2 linked regions of the Homo sapiens genome follow. The protein of the gene in region 1 purifies or fractionates together with the protein of each later gene. This does not show direct contact. Each region holds a gene or a part of one and is shown on either strand. Other genes may lie near its edges.

Region 1 (5,037 bases):
TAATCACCTCTTTCCCTTCTCTTCCACTTTCCTCCAATTCTCATGCATAAGGATTATATTTTCCTTCATTGAGGACCACTAGATTTTTGTACTATGATTTCAAAAGGTACCCTTGCACAATCTCTGCTAGAATGGACCACAGAATCGCTTTTAGTTTAGAAGTCTGGGTGAGAATTGTCAGACTATTTTCCTGTGTTGCAGTAATCAGATATTGTTATAGCTATAAAACACTGGCCTCTTTTGATTTCCTGAGGCCCATTCCCTATTTTTAGCATTCATTGCCAGGCAAATTATGTGAGGCAGATCCTGTCCTTCCCACTATGCGCATGCCATTTTGTAACTCAGACTAGAAGACACGGAATGCTATGAATTTCGCTGTATATTACCTTTGGATGTAGAAATACCCAACTTTTTTAGTTTTCCTTAGTAAAAGTAAAATTGATCCTAGGTTCATCTCCTTCTAACAAAGATGACAAGAAAGTCATCTCAGTCATCGTGGACCTCTCCCCGCTCTGTTCTGTGGAAGTCTTCAACAGTTCATAGCATTCAATTTCAGGGAGCCCGTTGATCTTCATGCTCATTAATAACCATGCTGATGTGTTCATTATCCAAGCAGCAGGGTTTCTTCAAGGCAGGTGACTCAGATGCCTTCCTGCCATGCTTAACACAGCCCTGCCTAGGAAGATGCACCATATGCCACTCCTCTCTAAGGTTTTCCTCTGAAAAGGAGCAAGTTCCACTCAAAAAACCCCAAACTTCTAAGCCTTTAGACAGACAACTCCAAGTTTGTTTTGTTTGATCATCAATACTTTTGTTTGGAATATTCAGATAAATTTCTAGCAATTGTAATTATAGAAATGGTATAATATGTAGAGCTTATGTGACAGAACTGTTTACTTTACAAATGAGTTTAGAGATCAATATTTATAAAAATAACTGGGGATCTCAAGGAGATACTTGAGAAAGAATGAGTGACAAGGTCAAAGTGGCTGACCTTGGAGGAGGGAGTGCATTCAATCTTGGGCATAATCTGAATTAGACTGTTCAGTGCCTCATAATCTCTCCTCAAAGGATCTAGAAACAATATGGGTCTCTTGCCTAAAGTTAGAAGTAGGGGAACAAACATCCTAAAACTAGTCCCTTTTTTTACTTAACTTAGTTTATTTCAGTAGTCTAGGAGCTAACCTAAGGGTAATCTCCAGAGTACCTGTTCTGGATTGGAACAGTCCAGAGAATCAGCGAGTCTGAATAAAATTTGAAGTACAGAGTACAAGAATTTAAGAGACCACAGAGACTGTTGAGCTAATTCACTTTATACTCGCTGTCCTGCCCTTGAATAAGAGCTCATGGAAATCAGCTTACATTAACACTTATGAACATTAGAAATAGGGCCCAAGGAGGGATATCCACTGACGATAAGTCCTTGCCATTAGCAGATGGCAGGTGCAGCCCTGGGGCGGTTGAGCAGCAGGGGCCAAGTAAAGAAACTCACCCCTCAGAGTGGCAATGCACCTTCTCATTCATTGGGCTGTGCTCTTTTTTTAACCAGGAAAGATACCATAATACTTGTGTGATTAAAATCTAATTTTGTAAATTATGTGTTCCTAAAATATTGGGTGTGTGGTTGATGTTACTAGGCAGTCACGTCAATTCATCTTAAGGAAAAGGTAATACTTATAATTGAGATTTCACTGAGAAAAAGTGGAAAATACTACTGAAGGATTGCAATATATCATTTATTGACATATTAGAAACATCTAAAAGGTGTCATTACATGGATTTTGATACATCTTTGAGCACATCATCAGCTTGAGACTAGGAAGGAACACTGTAGAGAATCAGTTCAAGCAGCACATGATACATCTGAGGCACCAACACACAAAAAGAAAGAAGGTCAGACACAACCTACATTTGCAAGGTACCATTTACTTGATGAAGTTCTAAGAGAGTTGACAATGGGCTTTTTAAAAAGAAAAAAAAAAGCTTTGGAAAGTCTAGAAATTAAACCAAAGGTCCAGACTTTAAACTTTAGTCTCACATTCTGTAATATATTTTGATAAACAGTCCAGAAATGCTTAAGCAGTTGAATTACCGAAACTACAGTTTGCAGCTAACTTATAAGTGACTCCAGGATTTCAAAAAGACAAGTTAACCTCTGATCTAGAAAGCATGTTTGAATCTAAAATATACTTTTAAAAAGCATTCTTGTTAGGTTCATTGACATGGACAAAATTGCGTATTTATGCATAATCTATGAGAAAGTATTTTGGTTGTTGTACTGGTATAGAACAGTCTAATTCGGCGAACTCATCGTCAAGTAGTGATGAGATAAGATACTAGCCTGATGACTGTCTATTGAAAGGCTGATGCAAAGGTCATGACTGACTGATGCAGGCAATGAGTGGCATGAGAGTACCTGATATTACACATTTGTGCAATGGACCGGCTATCCTGAATGAGCAACTCATCATGTTTGGTGTGTCACCTAAGCTAATTACTATAAATAGACCACATTCACTACTTAGGAAATATTGGGTTTCCAAATCTTAGCTAAAGGTTTAGAAAAAAAATGCTCCTATGCAGTGTCTTGCTATACTCACAACTGAATACTACCAGCAGAGATCAGTTTTAAGTGACACTAACAACAGCTGGAAAACTATGTAAAATGTGTTCTCTCTCTCTCTTTGCGTGTGTGTATTTGCATTTAATGAGCTGCTGAGAATGATGGTTGTCCGTATGATTCTCTCTTGAATGCATTGGAAAGTTGTTTCTTTGCCTGGGATCACTTCTACTTGGTAAGAACTATTAATGATTAAATAGTTCTGAAAAGAACAGGGTTGTCCACACTAAACCAAGTTCATGAGCTATAGATTTTTGCTAGTTTATGTGCTTTCCTTATTTTCTTCCCTTCCTACAAAGTATGAGACCATTAGCACACATGTTGGAGTGTGTTTGCCAAGAATCCTGAAGGCCCAACACTAGTATTGATTAGTCCTCTTACTAAAGCACAATTTGAATTGTCTTAAGTTAACAGGAGGGCATAGCTGTCCAGTCAGCACTCACATTTCCATACAGCTTTGTTGTTCTTGACATATACGATAGGTCTAGCAGTAGAGATCAACGAAGGTGATGCACCCAGGAGACATCTGGCCACGTCTAGAGACATTTTTGGTTGTCACAACTGGGGAGAGGGTGTTACTGCCATCTAGTGAGTGGAGGCCAGAGATGCTGCTAAACATCCTACAACACACAGGACAGACAGCCCTCCAAACAACACCGAGTTTTTTTGTTTAACCATCATTAACACTTTTGTTTGGAATATTCAGATAAATTTCTAGCAAAGGTAGTTATAGAAAAATTATATAATATGTAGAGTTTATATGGCAGAATTTTTTACTTTACACATGAGTTTAGAGATCGGTACTTATAAAAATAACTGGGGATCTCATAGAGATACTTGAACTTTTCCAGAGAAACTTTATTCCATTTTGTGTAGCGTATGTATTATTTGAGATATTGCTTCAGCAGTCTCAAGAAATACATTAAAATTAGCTACTTCTTATCCAGTGACTTCTACCTGTGCCAGGCACAATGGCAGCACTTTCATACATTGTGTCATTTAATTCTCATCACAACCTTGTAAGGTGCAGCACTACTAATCCTATTTTACAGATGAGGGAACAGAGACTAAGAGAAGTTAAGCTGCCTCCTCAAGGTCACGCAGCTGGTAAATGATAAGACTGGTATGCAAACCCAAATATGTCAGACTCAAAGCCCTCTTTCCTCTATATGATGCTGTCCTCAGGAACTATTGAACTTTTTAACCATAGAGCAAATAGATCTCAGCAGCACGAGAGGAAACATAAATGGAAATAACCAAAAATATATTCATCTAAGATGTGGCTACATTATACCAAATGTGCTAAGTCTCTGCTTTCCTTCTTGGATTTGCTCAAAGCAGCCTAAAAGGGTTGTGCAGGTTATTTCTACAAATCTCTTCTCACCTAGATAGATCAGGAAGAGAAGAAACCAGATTTTTCTTCAATTATTTACATAACTGAAGGGGAAATGACAGTTTGCATCCCCTAAAATTTTTAGGCTGCAAAATGAATGGTCCTCACTGCTTCTCACCTGAGAACCACCCACTTTACCATTTAATCTATGCACATCTCATCCTCAGTTGTCATTCTGGTTTGGGAAGATCTCATCAACTTTTAAGAATAATCTGGAAATGCTTCTGATATTTTTAATCTATAATTGTATCACATTCAACTCCAAGTTAGTTAACCTTGACTGTTTTTCACAAGATTTCAATACAAGAGCCTGTGTCAGGGGACGGGTCTGGGGAAAGTTTCATTTCTGGAGCAAGATTTATCTCTAAGGCATCAGCTACTATGACATATCATAATTCAGGGGCCACATAGATGGGATATTTGGGTACTCAGAGCACATACAAATTAGTATGTGAACAAAATATATTACTGGATTACTGAACGAGTTCAACCACACCATGATTTACAGTGCCCTGACAGAGTCAGAGCCAGGACCCACAGGCCAGAGCCTCTTCCATGGGGGGAATTCTGCTTCTACTCCATCAGATAGAACCCAGACACCCAGATTTAGTCACTGAGGGTTTGGTTTGGGGCTTTTGTACATTCTAACAAATGTTAAAGCCTCGTTTTCTATGTAGGCACTTTATAGATTTATTACAAATGACATACTCCAAATACTACCTCCTGATTTAAATTCTTTTCTGTTTGTCTGATAGAAAACTACTGATGTCCCCAGCTTACATCATTGTACTTGCTGTGTTACCTTCAAATTCCAAAGGCTTTCTTCCTTTGCAGAATTTTTAAAAATTTATCTTCAAAACCCAATTATCCTGAGCTCTTTTCAAGTAGGCCTATAAAAACCCAGGGATTATTCTCAGAAGTGAAGCAGCATCCTGCTTTTATATCTTCTGAAGTGGCCACAGTTCAACATTAAGGAATGATCAGGAAGCAGTCTCATCCATAGTCCCTTCCATAAACTATATTG
Region 2 (3,500 bases), on another chromosome or scaffold:
GACCCCACACATGGAAAGCCAAATACAAATAAGCTTTGTCCTTGAGGAGCTCATAGTCCACTAGGAGAAATGGGCCTTGGGACACAATTATAGGAGGGGTCTCTGGAAGAGCCCAGGTGAACTAGCCTTAACTCTGCTTCTGGCAACCTGGGCAGACTCTCTACAGAGGAGGAGATGAGCTGGTCAGTCCCCAGGACTGGTTTGGCAGATAGAGGGAGTAAAAGGCACTGCAAAGCAAGATGCATTCACTCATCCAGCCAACACCTGCTCTGCCCATCTCCATAGGATACTGAGAATGAATGAATGAATGATCAATGAATATGATTATGTGCTTTGCCCATGAGCACTGTGGTTAAGGGCAGTGGAGGGTCTGCTGCCAGCTCCTACTGGACCAGAACTGCACTCCCATCCTAAACACATACCCAAGGTCCCAGCAGGAGGCAGGGGTGCTTATTTTGAGACTACCAATCTTCCCGCTCCACAGCCTTGGTGCAGCTTGCAGCCAGGCCTGAAAAGGAAGTCTCCCAATGGAGACAATTCCTAGCCAGGGAGCCTGGCAAGAGGGATCCCTGAGTGGCAGCAAGCCTTATCCCTTTTTTCTTTTTTCTCTTTTGTTTTTTCCAAGTGAGGTCACAGGAAGCCCTATCCTTTCTTTTCTTTTTTTCTTTTCTTTTTTTTTGAGACAGAGTCTTGCTCTTGTTGCTCAGGCTGGAGTGCAGTGGTGCGATCTCGGCTCACTGCAACCTCGGCCTCCCGGGTTCAAGCAATTTTCCTGCCTCAGCCTCCTGAGTAGCTGAGATTACAGGCGCGTACCACCACATCCAGGTAATTTTCGTATTTTTACAATACAAATACTCGGCTGCCCTATCCCTTTTTAAGACTTTTATGTGGTTAGACAAATGTCTTAGGCTGGGTGTGATGGCTCACGCCTGCAATCCCAGCACTTTGGGAGGCCAAGGCAGGCAGATCACCTGAGGTCAGGAGTTCGAGACCAGCCTGCCCAGCATGGCGAAACCCTGTCTCTACTAAAAATACAAAAATCAGCCAGGCGTGGTGGTGTGCACCTGTAATCCCAGCTACTCAGGAGCATGAGGCAGGAGAATTGCTTGAACCTGAGAGGCAGAGGTTGCAGTGAGCCAAGATCGCACCATCACACTCCCGCCTGGGCAACAGAGCGAGAATCCATCTCAAAAAAAAAAAAAAAAAAAAGGACAAATGTCTTGCAAATAAAAAATCAATCAATTTTTTCCAAAATATGGAGCAGCCATTGGGACGGATAAAATCAGCTGGGCACGATGGCTAAATGCCTGTAATCCCAGTACTTTGGGAGGCTGAGGTCAGAGGATCACTTGAGCCCAGGAGTTCAAGATCAGCCTGGGCAACAAAATGAGACTCCATCTCTACAAAAAAAATAATAAATATGACTGGCTTATGCCTGTAATCCCAGCACTTTGGGAGGCTGAGGCAGGAGGATTGCTTGAGGCCATGAGACAAGCCTGGGGAAACTTGTGAGACCGTGTCTCTACAAAAAATAAAATTAGCTGGGCATGACGGTATGTGCCTGTAGTCCCACTACTTGGGAGGCTGAGGTGGTAGGATCACTTGAGCCTGGGAGGTTGAGGCTGCAGTGAGCCAAGATCTTGCCACTGTACTCCAGCTTGGGCAACAGAGTGAGACTCTATCTCAAAAAAATAAAATAAAATAAAATAAAATACAATAATTAGCCGGGTGTGGTGACACATGCCTGTAGTCTCAGCCACTTGAGAGACTTAGGAGGATCGCATGAAGCCCAGGAAATCAAGGCTACAATGAACTATGATCAGGCCACTGCACTCCAGCCTGGGTGACAGAGACCATGTCTCAAAAAAAAAAAAAATTTCTTTTTAAAAATAATCTTAAAGTGGTGATATGTTTGTTTTGTTTTGTTCATTTGTTTGTATTTGAGATGGAGTCTTGCTCTGTCGCCAGGCTGGAGTAAAGTGGTATGATCTCCACTCACTGCAACCTCCACCTCCCGGGTTCAAGTGATTCTCCTGCCTCAGCCTCCCAAGTAGCTGGGACTACAGACGTGTGCCACCACGCCCAGCTAATTTTTGTATTTTTAGTAGAGACGGGGTTTTACTATGTTGGCCAGGATGGTCTCGATCTCTCGACCTCATGATCCACCTGCCTCGGCCTCTCAAAGTGCTAGGATTACAAGCATGAGCCACTGCGCTGGGCCAAAGTGGTGATATGTTTGTATAAGCATAAAAATGAGAAATGGGCCGGGCATGGTGGCTCACGCCTATAATTCCAGCACTCTGGGAGGCCGAGGCAGGCGGATCACTTGAGCTCAGGAGTCTGAAGCCCTGTCTCTGCAATAAATAAAAAAATTGCTGGGTACGGTGGCTCACGCCTGTAATCCCAACACTTTAGGAGGCCAAGGCGGGTGGATTACCTGAGGTCGGGAGTTTGAGACCAGCCTGACCAACATGGAGAAACCCCATCTCTACTAAAAATACAAAATTAGCCAGGCGTGGTGGTGCATGCCTGTAATCCCAGCTACTCAGGAGGCTGGGGCAGGAGAATTGCTTGAACCCAGGAGGTGGAGGTTGTAGTAAGCCGAGATCAGGCCATTGCACTCCAGCCTGGGCAACAAGAGTGAAACTCTGTCTCAAAAAAAAAAAAAATTAGCCAGGTGTGGTCGAGTGTCAAGTGCGCCTGTAGTCCCAGCTACTCAGGAGGCTGAGGTGGGAAGATCGCTTGAACCCAGGAGGCGTAGGTTGCAGCAAGCTGAGATCGGGCCACTGCACTCCAGCCTGGGCAACAGAGCAGACCCTGTCTCAAAAAACAAAACAAAACAAAACAAAACAAAAAAAGAGGCTGGGCATGGTGGCTCATGCCTGTAATCCTAGCATTTTGGGAGGCTGAGGCGGGCAGATTGCTGGAGCTCAGGAGTTCACGACTAGCCTGGGCAACATGGCAAAACCCCATTTCCACTTAAAAAAAGATACAAAATATTAGCCAGGAGTGGTGATGTGTGCCTGTAGTCCCAGCTACTCGAGAGACTGAGGCAGAACTGCTTGAATCCAGGAGGCGGAGGCTGCAGTGAGCCAAGATCACGCCACTGCACGCCAGCCTGGATGACAGAGTGAGACTCCATCTTCACAAAAAAAAAAAAAAAAAAAAAAAAAAAAAAAGAAAGAAAAAGAAAAGAAAATAAATTACTTGTCCCAAACTGTTAATACTGCTTACCTGGGAAAGAGGAATAGGAGATGGCTAAATTTTTCTTTATTCATTGTAATTTTTTATAAAGATTTTAAAGTGTGTTAAGCATTTCTGAATTCATGAACTCTCTCGATCATTGTACATGCATCTGCTTCATTAGCAAAAAGACAATTATCAGCCTGGTGCGGTGGCTCATGCCTGTAATCCCAGCACTTTGGGAGGCCGAGGCGGGCGGATTGCCTGAGGTCAGGAGTTTGAGGCTAGCCTGGCCAACATGGTGAAACTCAGTCTCT

The links. Proteins that work in one complex are often made in the same cells at the same time.
Region 2: the proteins of ANKRD34C (region 1) and NIPSNAP1 fractionate together in Homo sapiens (co-fractionation; one large-scale study listed by BioGRID). This does not show direct contact.

What each region holds. Positions count from the first base shown.
Region 1 is NC_000015.10:79,294,918-79,299,954, reverse strand, and holds the end of ANKRD34C (ankyrin repeat domain-containing protein 34C), read right to left. Parts: 3' UTR 1,716-5,037; downstream 1-1,715.
Region 2 is NC_000022.11:29,571,114-29,574,613, forward strand, and holds part of NIPSNAP1 (protein NipSnap homolog 1), read right to left. Parts: intron 1-3,500.